Linked DNA regions of Homo sapiens: regions 1 and 3 are each reported to be linked to region 2. Evidence: microRNA targets listed by miRTarBase, many of them from high-throughput screens and not tested one by one. Region 2 holds a microRNA gene; each other region holds the end of a gene's coding sequence.

Region 1 (3,226 bases), not on the chromosome of region 2:
CTGTGGCAGGCAGAAATGGGAGAAGGTGGCGTCGCGCGTGTCGGAGGGAACGGCAGAACGCACGCTTGGCGTATTATAGTGGGAAAGGGCACAGCCTCAACTCAGCACCCGCAACTCACTCAGCACTCCCGACTCAGCACCCGCGACTCAAGCACCCCCGCTATCCCCCTGGAGGCCCGACCGAACGCCCTCCCACCTGAAACCCAGGTAGCGCACCCTTCTCCCCACGTCCCAGACCAGGTCAGTGCTGCCACTCTTCGTCCCCCAATTTCCTCTAGACCCACCAGAATGCGGGTTAATGTCCGAGAGTGCCCTTCGGGCGGCCCTCCACGTGCAATCCGGACCTAGCTTTCGGCCGGCACTCGCCACAGAATCGTTCCACGCAGGCGCACGGGTAGCGCTAGCCTCGCGGCCCCGCCTCTTCCTGTTGCGCCTAGTCGGCCGCCGCACCCGGAACTTACGCTCGCCCTGGGAACGCCAGCGGAGCCGGCGGCGGCGAGTAGGGGGCAATTCGAAGGAGACGCGCAGCTTACACCCGCGGCGGGTGGAGGGAGCAATGTGACGAAACCATTGAGCTTGACCGACCTTCCCTCATGGAGTTGGCTTTTAGCCTCACGGCCGGTTTCTGTTGGGTGAAAGCCGCACCTTCTCCTCGAACCAGGGCCCGACATTGGAGCCCTCTCCCTCGCATCCACTGCCCTAGTCCAGCGTCAAGATCACGGAATTCCAGGCTGGGCGCAGTGGCTCACGCCTGTAATCCCAGCACTTTGGGAGGCTGAGGTGGGTGGATCACTTGAGGTCAGGAGTTCGAGACCAGCCTGGCCAATATGGTGAAACCCTGCTTCTACTAAAAATACAAAATTAGCCGGGCGTGGTGGCGGGCGCCTATAATCCCAGCTACTCGAGAGGCTGAGGCAGAATTGCTTGAGCCCGGGAGGCGGAGGTTGCAGTAAGCCGAGATCGTGCCACTTAAGCCTCACCAAGAGCGAAACTCCACCTCAAAAAAAAAAAACAAAAAAACCAGCCGGGCTCGGTGGCTCACGCCTGTAATCCCAGCACTTTGGGAGGTCGAGGCGGGCGGATCACGAGGTCAAGAAATCCGAGACCATCTTGGCCAACCTTGTCTCTATTAAAAATACAAAAATTAGTTGGGCATGGTGGCTGGCGCACGCGTGTAGTCCCAGCTACTCGGGAGGCTGAGGCAGGAGAATCGCTTGAACCCGGGAGGGGGAGGTTGCAGTGAGCTGAGATCGCGCCACTGTACTCCAGCCTGGCAACAAAGCGAGACTCCATCTCAAAACAAACAAACAAAAAAAACCGTGGAATTCCATGCCACTTACCTCCTCCTCTTTGCCCCTTTTTTAAAAATCTTTTTATAGAGACGGGTTGTAGGGGGTGGCGTCTCACTATATTGCCAGGGCTGGTCTAGAACTCCTGGGCTTAAGCGATCCTCCTGCCCCCACCTTTGTGCTGAGATTACAGGCTGTGAGCCACCGTGCCCCGCCCTCCCAGCACCTTCCTTGATGCTGACCCCTGCTCAGCCCCTCAATTAAGGTGCTGCACTGCACCTCATTCGCAGGGGGCCTCTTCGCCGGAACTCGCTTTCAGGTGGGTCTACAATTAGTTGGGAAACAACGGGTTGCAAGGCTGACCTGGTCTGGGACATGAGAAGGGGTGAACTACAAGGGTTTCAAGGTTGGAGGACGTTAGGTCGGGCCTCCGGGGGTGTGGGATTGAGGCTGTGTTCTTCCACAAATTGCATCCCAATTTTGCACAACTTAGCAAGAAAACCCCCCTCAGCCTTCCTAGAAACTAACATTAAGGTAGTGGTTAGGTGTTAAAACCGTTCCATGTACTTCACTGGTTTAACTTGACAACCGTATGAGGTATACATGAGATATCTGCATCCCACCAAAGTTAAACAACTTGCTCAAGGTCACAGAGCCATTAAGCGGCGGTGCCCGCAGTTTTGCAGCCTCTCATTTTCCACAGGTGGAAGTCAACGTTGGCAAGGCACATACTGCACCCACACACAGAACCCAGTTACTCAGTGGGGTATCAGGACACCACGTAGCCCTTAATTTTCAACTATACAGGTGCCAGGCTCCTGCCGCACACACTCATCCACCTGCACCTACACCCACACTGAACCAGAGCACTAAAATACAAGGAAACTTTTATTTTCAATTTTCATCAAGAAATTTGCTGTGGTTTTTTATGCTTTTGGTTTTTTCCTTTTTTTTTTTTTCCACTTTATTTCATTTAGCCGCTCAGTGGCTAGAGCCGCTGGGTTCCTGGTATTAAAAAGATGCCAACAGAGGTAGCTGTGTCTCGCCCAGGGGCCCAGCCCACTCTGAATACCCCCCAAAAAGGAGAAAAGAAAACACAAAATAAACCAACAAAATAAAACCAAAAGGAGGAAAAAATTCAGATCATTTTCTTCAAGCCTGGCAGGAACCCACAACAGTTTGTGTGTAACAGGCGTTACAGTGGGGAGAAGCCAGGGTCCAGAAGGCCAGCCCGCCAGCTCCTGCAGATGGCGCCAGCGCTACTGCTGCATGTCTCTTCTGCAGGAAGGGCACCACTGCCCCTCACTCCCTCCCCTCCCCCAGTGCACTGGGGCTGTTCCTTTACAACATGGAAGATGGGCAGAAGGAAGGTGAGGGTCTCTCAGGCCCCCAGGGGAGAAGCTGGGACAAGAGAAAGTGAGGAAGGTCACTGCTCAGCGGTGGAGGTGGTATCAGTCTGCATCTTCACTGCTGCTGGGCTACCTAGAGAAGGAGACCCGAGGAGTCAGAATTCCAGATGATAGGAATCCACCCAATCTCAAGGGAATTCACTGATAGGCCACCCACCCAGTATGTAAAGCTAGGGACATACAGCAAAGTTACAAGCTCCAGAATGGTTCTGCAGGAAGAGGTGGTGTCAAGAAGAAAATGGTCCTACCTGCTGTGGGGTAGGTTCGGGTGCCCGGTTTGCCAGGCGGCTGAGAATGTTACGCTCTGACATCTGTAACCTCACAGCAACTGGGGGAATTCGGGCAATGGTAGCTGGGAGTCGAGTCACATCAGCTTTCATGTCACTCAGCAGTTCTTCCAGCTGTTTCAGAACTGCATAGGGAGAAAAAGAGGTGGTGAGCTGTGGTGGCCCAGACTGAGCTCCCTCTACCCTAGTGGACCAGCCCCCCATCACTTCTCAGTGACCAAGTAACTGTGATGTATTGTCT
Region 2 (3,250 bases):
TATCTCACCTAAAACAATGCCCGTGGTATCGACTATTATCCTTGGCAAAGTGCCTTTGCATTAAAACATGGTGACAGCATTTCTCGGCCCTGATGTTGGGGAGAGTTCCTACCATGTAATTATCCAGCTCAATTAGAAGACAAGGTCAGAACAAACAGATCCAGAGGGAAGGTCCATGCCTGCTAGACACACAGATGTGGTCCCACATCATTTTCTTTTTTCTTTTTTTCTTTTTAGGTAGCCTGTTACTGTTTCATACACATGGTTTTCAAAGTAACAGGCAGCCAGATAGTAAGACTGCAGGGAGCAAATGAAAATTCACATTTTTTTGATTGAGTACCTATATTGCAGGCAGTTTCACATATAACATTTCATATAATGTCTACAGAAATGTACACAGCTAATTGTCTATGACATTGGTATTACTGAGACCATCTCACAGATGAGGAAACTAAGGTTCATTAATTTGACTGATAAGACTTATAAGAGGTTCATTACTTTGAGCCTGGTTTAGCTAATAAGTTTCATAACCAGAAGTCAATCAGATGTGGCCGCCATCAAAGCCCATGGGCCCAAGGCATGGTCTCTCAATTGTACCACAATGAGGCCTACACTTCTGTTTTGCACTCTACACATTTTCTTAGTGGAATACAATAACAGCTGTACCTGTTTTCACCTTTTTATAAGGATCTCAATGATCCTCATTAAATGTAATTAAGAACACAGTGAAACCTGAAACTATTCTGCGTGAAGGTGCCTTGTCCAGTCTGGGGAGAAGACAAGCTCGGAGTCTTGGGTGACAAAGTCGCTCATTGATGGATTGCCAGCAGTCTGGTAGTAACGCCTTAGTGACTGAAGGTCAAGAACATTTCTCTTGGGCTCCGCTTCCCAATTCCAGTTGAAGAATAACAAGCTCTGTGGTTTCTACACAACAGAAACCACAGATTCCCAGGGGCCCTGTCAATCAAGCTTGACACTAAATGGTGATGACTGCTCCTGTTATTGCAAAATACATGTATACTAAACAAAGACCGTACTGGTTAGTTTTGCTTAAATACTGGAGGATTCTGACCAGTACAATGCTAAAACATAAACTTTCATTTATGAAAAAAGATAAACTTTCTAAAATTCCCAGGTTATACTCAAGAAGTAACTTGCTCCCTGTGAAGAGAGGGTGGGGTTGCAGAGACTCCAGAGATCTCCACTTCTGCAGTGTCAGTGTGGAACTGTATCTATTGCTCCAGTATCCACTCCTGACCAGCAGGAATGGCAAAGAACCTCAGAAGAGTACAGGTGGTAGGTGCTGAGTAAAACTGGAAGTCTGAGTGTGTCTCCTAGACACTAGCAACTACAAGGATATACTTTCAATGAAACTCTTTGAACTCATTGGGAGAAACCTGAAAAATACCATGTGCTGTTGAGGAATTAATGCCCACTCCCACCCCCAGTCTTCATCTAATTATGCTTTTATAATTAATTAATTAATGCCCACTCCCACCCCCAGTCTTCATCTAATTGTGCTTTTTAAATTAATTAATTAATGCCCACTCCCACCCCCAGTCTTCATCTAATTGTGCTTTTTTAATTAATTAATTAATGCCCACTCTCACCCCCAGTCTTCATCTAATTGTGCTTTTTAATTATTTTATTTTATTTTATTTTATTTTTTTGAGATGAAGTCTTGCTCTGTCGCCCAGTCTGGAGTGCAGTGGTGCGACCTCGGCTCACTACAAGCTCCGCCTCCCGGGTTTTTGCCATTCTCCTGCCTCAACCTCCCGAGTAGCTGGGACTACAGGCACCTGCCACCACGCCTGGCTAATTTCTTTGTATTTTTAGTAGAGACAGGGTTTCACCATGTTAGCCAGGATGGTCTCGATCTCCTGACCTCGTGATCTGCCCGCCTCAGCCTCCCAAAGTGCTGGGATTACAGGTGTGAGCCACTGCGCCCACCCTATCGTGCTTTTTAAATTAATTGATTAATGCCCACTCCCATCCCCAGTCTTCATCTACTTGTGCTTTTCCAAGTATATTCATCTATGGTTAAACTTTCATATCATTTCTTTACTTTTCTTTTAAGCCACACACTTCTGAGATTAAAAAACAACAACAACAAAAAAACTGTTCAGCTCATTTTGAAATACAACAGAAGTATTCCTGAGGACTTCCCCATGGCAAACACGATTATTAACTGATTACTAAAAAGAGAAGGGCAAAAGGCAAAATAATGGACATTAGATCTAGGGAAAAATGGTGGAAACAACCTTAAAGAATACGGTGGAGAAACATCTGGAAAAAGCATATTTAATTAGAGAACACCAAGAGGGACTGAAACAAAGGAAATCATGCCTGGCTGGCCTGATGGAAGGCTTGGAAGGTGTGACTGCCATGAAAGCTACAATCAATTAAATAAGTGCCACCTTTCTTGAATTTTGCCAAGCAGATGGCAAAGTTGGAGAATCAACAGGGAAACTGCAGAGTGATACAATGGAGAGAGAGAAGGATCAGAAAGCCCCTCCTACAGCTACATCCCTATCCCTCTTAGGCTTGCGTCATACATTGTCCAGTTGGCTTCAACATTCAGAATAACTGGAGCCCTAAAGAACTGTCAAGTTCTGAGAACAGTCTTTCCATTTCCAGAAACAACTTCCTGAGAGACCGTTACATGGCTGCCAAGAAAACACTGCTTCATGTTTAAAGCACTTGTGAAACTTGAGGTCAAAAAGCAGAGGTCCACCAAGCAAGGCCACAGAAAAACAGCTTGAAAATGCTCTAGCTGAGCCTATACGCTCTGTGGCAAAACCTCGTGACTGTAGTGCTTACTCTGGGCAGTTCTGGAAGGCTTTTTCTACCAGAAGTTTCCATCAGTTGAGGTTTTGACTCTTACTCTCCCCTGGGTGGAGACTCTGAGGCTGCATGGTGCAAGATGAAAGGACTTCAATATTGTCTGACTATAAGAGCAAGCTCTGCAAAGCACTTTTTTGAAGAGATTTTTGAATGGAAAATCTGGGTGGGAAAATAGGAAAACAGGTCAGTTGAGCAAAGGAATATCAACTATTCCTGTTCGCCACATGAGCTGAGAATGCAGCCTCTCCTTCAGAGTAGAAACAGGAGCTGGGGAGCTCCTGGAGTCGATGGGAGGTGCCCAAGTCTGGTAGGAGATGGGGGCACTGATGCAGCCATGGCCCCCCGGCTGGTGTAATCTGCTTTCAGGCACCCAGTTGCAGGGTGGCTCAGCTGAGGGTCACCAGCT
Region 3 (3,250 bases), not on the chromosome of region 2:
CTTGACCTGGGCCCAGTTCAGCATCCTCATCCGGCCTCTGTTTGAGTCCTTCAACGGGATGGTGTCCACGGCAAGTGTGCACACCCTCCGCCAGACCTCACTGGCCTGGCTGGACCAGTACTGCTCTCTGCCCGCTCTCCGGCCAAGTACGTGAGCCATCTCCCTGCCTGCTAGAGGGACCCAGCCTCGGGGGTGGAGGGAGCATTCCACCCTGCTTAGATCCCACATCCAGCTTGCCATCAACACAGCCTAGGGTTGTGGCCACCCCGCATCCCCCAGATGGTCCTCTGGCCACCAGACGCCTGTAGACAGAGGTTCTAGGAGGGGGTGACAGTCTTGCCAACTAATACCTCCCCCTATCCCTTTGGTTCCACATCCAAGGGTAGGGCCCTGACCCCAGGAAGTGTCTGTCTCTCTCTCTCTGTCTCCCACCCAGCTGTCCTGAACTCCCTACGCCAGCTGGGCACATCTACCAGTATCCTGACCGACCCGGGCCGCATCCCTGAGCAAGCCACACGGGCAGTCACAGAGGGCACCCTTGGCAAACCTTTATAGTCCTGGCCAGACCCTGCTGCTCACTCAGCTGCCCTGGGGGCTGCTTTCCCTGGGCACGGGCTCCAGGGATCATCTCTGGGCACTCCCTTCCTGCCCCAGGCCCTGGCTCTGCCCTTCCCTGGGGGGTGGAGCAGGGTCCAGGTTTCACACTTGCCACCTCCTGGAGGTCAAGAAGAGCAGAGTCCCCGTCCCTGCTCTGCCACTGTGCTCCAGCACCGTGACCTTGGGTGACTCGTCCGCTGTCTTTGGACCGCTGTGTTTCAATCTGCAAAATGGGGATGGGGAAGGTTCAATCAGCAGATGACCCCCAGGCCTTGGCAGCTGTGACATTGGGGGCCTAGGCTGGCAACTCCGGGGGCTCAACGGTGGAAAGAGGAGGATGCTGTTTCTCTGTCACCTCCACTTGCTCCCCGACAGGTGGGGCACAGACCTCTGTTCCTGAGCAGAGAAGCAGAAAAGGAGGTTCCCTCTCTCTGCTCCTTCACTGCTGACCCAGAGGGGCTGCAGGATGGTTTCCCCTGGGAGAGGCCAGGAGGGCCTGATCCCAGGAGACACCAGGGCCAGAGTGACCACAGCAGGGCAGGCATCATGTGTGTGTGTGTGTGTGGATGTGTGTGTGTGGGTTTTGTAAAGAATTCTTGACCAATAAAAGCAAAAACTGTCTGCTGGTTTGTTGGTGTGCTGGTCAGTGTCTCACACTGGGATGGAGAGAGAGCCTGTTGGCAGTGGGAAGTGGCTTTGCAGAGGGCCTGGGCATTTACTCTGAGCTGGAAGCAGCTGGAGGGCTTTGAGTGGAGGTGGGACAAGATCAGATGTAGTGGTGGCGAGCGCCTGTAGTCCCAGCTACTCAGGAGGCTGAGGCAGGAGGATCGCTTGAGCCCAGGAGTTCGAGGCTGCAGTGAGCTATGATAGCACCACTGCACTGTAGAGTGGGCAACAGAGTGAGACCCTGTCTCAAATAACAACAACAAAAAAGGCTGGGCACAGTGGCTCACACCAGTAATCCCAGCACTTTGGGAGGCCAAGGCGGGAGGATCATAGACCTCATCTCAGTAATAAAAAAGAGAAAAATAAATAAAAGAAAATCGGATGTAACTTTTTTTTTTTGAGACGGAGTCTCGCACTGTCACCCAGGCTGGAGTGCAGTGGCCCGATCTCGGCTCACTGCAAGCTCTGCCTCCTGGGTTCATGCCATTCTCCTGCTTCAGCCTCCCAAGTAGCTGGGACTACAGGCACCCGCCACCACGTCCAGCTGATTTTTTTTTTTTTTGTATTTTTAGTAGAGACGGGGTTTCACCGTGTTAGCCAGGATGGTCTCGATCTCCTGACCACGATTGTGATCCACCCACCTCAGCCTCCCAAAGTGCTGGGATTACAGGCGTGAGCCACCGCGCCCTGCCAGATGTAACTTTAAAAAAAAAAATTTTTTTTTTTTTGAGACAGAGTCTCGCTCTGTTGCCCAGGCTGGAGTGCAGTGGCGCAATCTCGGCTCACTGCAACCTTCGCCTCCCGGGTTCAAGCGATTCTCCTGCCTCAGCCTCCTGAGTAGCAGGGATTACAGGTGCGCACCACCATGCCCAGCTAATTTTTGTATTTTTAGTAGAGACGGGGTTTCACCATGTTGGTCAGGCTGGTCTTGAACTCCCGACCTTGTGATCTGCCCTCCTCAGCCTCCCAAAGTGCTGGGATTACAGGTGTGAGGCTGCCGCGCCCAGACAAAAAAATTTTTCTTATAAGAATAGAGTCAGCAGCCGGGTGTGGTGGCTCACGCCTGTAATCCCAGCACTTTGGGAGGCCGAGGCAGGCGGATCACAAGGTCAGGAGTTCGAGACCAGCCTGGCTAATATGGCAAAACCCGGTCTTTACTAAAAATACAAAAATTAGCCACATGTGCTGACACACGCCTGTAATCCCAGCTACTCAGGCTGGTCTTGAACTTTTGGGTTCAAGCAATGCTCCCGCCTTGGCCTCCCAAAGTGCCAGGATTACAGGCATGAGCCATGGCGTCTGGCCAGATGTAACTTTTTTACAGGAATCCCCTGGGTGCTGAGTTGAGACTAGGTGGATGCAGGGAGACCAGTTAGAGGACAGTTGCAGTCATCCAGGTGAGAGGTGATAGATTTGCTTCCTGGAGCTCCTCCCTCCATGGCCAGGAGACAGTTTGGAGAGGCTCGCTACCTTCAGAGTTGGAAGAAGGCAGAGCTGGGACCAAGGAGTGGAACCGACAGGGCATCCACTGGAACCACCCAGAAGGAGAATGTGCTCCCTTGGCGGGGCAGGTATGGAGGGTAGTGACCTCCCCGCTATGAGAGGTATGCATGCAGAGAGTGGATGGCCACTTAGTTGGGATGTCTTAGAAAAAACTGACAGCGGCCTGTGCGGTTGCTCACGCCACCCAACACTTTGGGAGGCCGAGGCGGGTAGATCACCTGAGGTCAGGAGTTCCGGACCAGCCTGGCCAACTTGGTGAAATCCCGTCTCTACTAAAAATACAAAAAAAATTAGCCGGGCATGGTGGCAGGTGCCTGTAACCCAGCTACTCGGGAGGCTGAGGCAGGAGAATCCCTTGAACCCAGGAGGTGGAGGTTGCAGTGAGCAGAGATTGCGCTACTCCACTCCAGCCTGGGTGACAGAGTGAGACTTCATCTCAAAAAAACATAAAAACAAAAAATAAAAAAACTGATCCTTCAGATGG

The links. The annotated mature microRNA hsa-miR-3692-3p reads GUUCCACACUGACACUGCAGAAGU and lies in region 2 at 1,204-1,227, opposite strand. An mRNA with a match to its seed (bases 2 to 7 or 8) in the 3' UTR can be bound and repressed. Matches are read on the target gene's strand: a 7mer-m8 pairs with bases 2 to 8, a 7mer-A1 pairs with bases 2 to 7 and ends in A, and an 8mer does both.
Region 1: miRTarBase lists CHD4 as a target of hsa-miR-3692-3p. Seed matches in the 3' UTR shown: 7mer-A1 at 2,246-2,252.
Region 3: miRTarBase lists MLXIPL as a target of hsa-miR-3692-3p. Seed matches in the 3' UTR shown: 7mer-A1 at 921-927.

What each region holds. Positions count from the first base shown.
Region 1 is chr12:6,567,923-6,571,148 of GRCh38, forward strand. CHD4 (chromodomain helicase DNA binding protein 4) reads right to left here. Exons shown (of 40, transcript NM_001273.5): 39 at 2,947-3,110; 40 at 2,160-2,771. The coding sequence ends at 2,754. It overlaps NOP2 (NOP2 nucleolar protein), which reads right to left and starts at 369. Exons shown (of 16, transcript NM_001258308.2): 1 at 285-369. It overlaps CHD4-AS1 (CHD4 antisense RNA 1), which reads left to right and starts at 449. Exons shown (of 3, transcript NR_199067.1): 1 at 449-1,608. RefSeq lists enhancers at 219-840, 664-713, 2,381-2,675.
Region 2 is chr6:157,527,152-157,530,401 of GRCh38, reverse strand. It overlaps MIR3692 (microRNA 3692), which reads right to left and starts at 1,270; the gene lies at 1,202-1,270. The region is part of intron 1 of ZDHHC14 (zDHHC palmitoyltransferase 14); the gene reads right to left.
Region 3 is chr7:73,591,170-73,594,419 of GRCh38, reverse strand. MLXIPL (MLX interacting protein like) reads left to right here. Exons shown (of 17, transcript NM_032951.3): 16 at 17-146; 17 at 437-1,218. The coding sequence ends at 555. Among named protein-coding and RNA genes, the nearest start is that of TBL2, 14 kb to the right of the region's middle.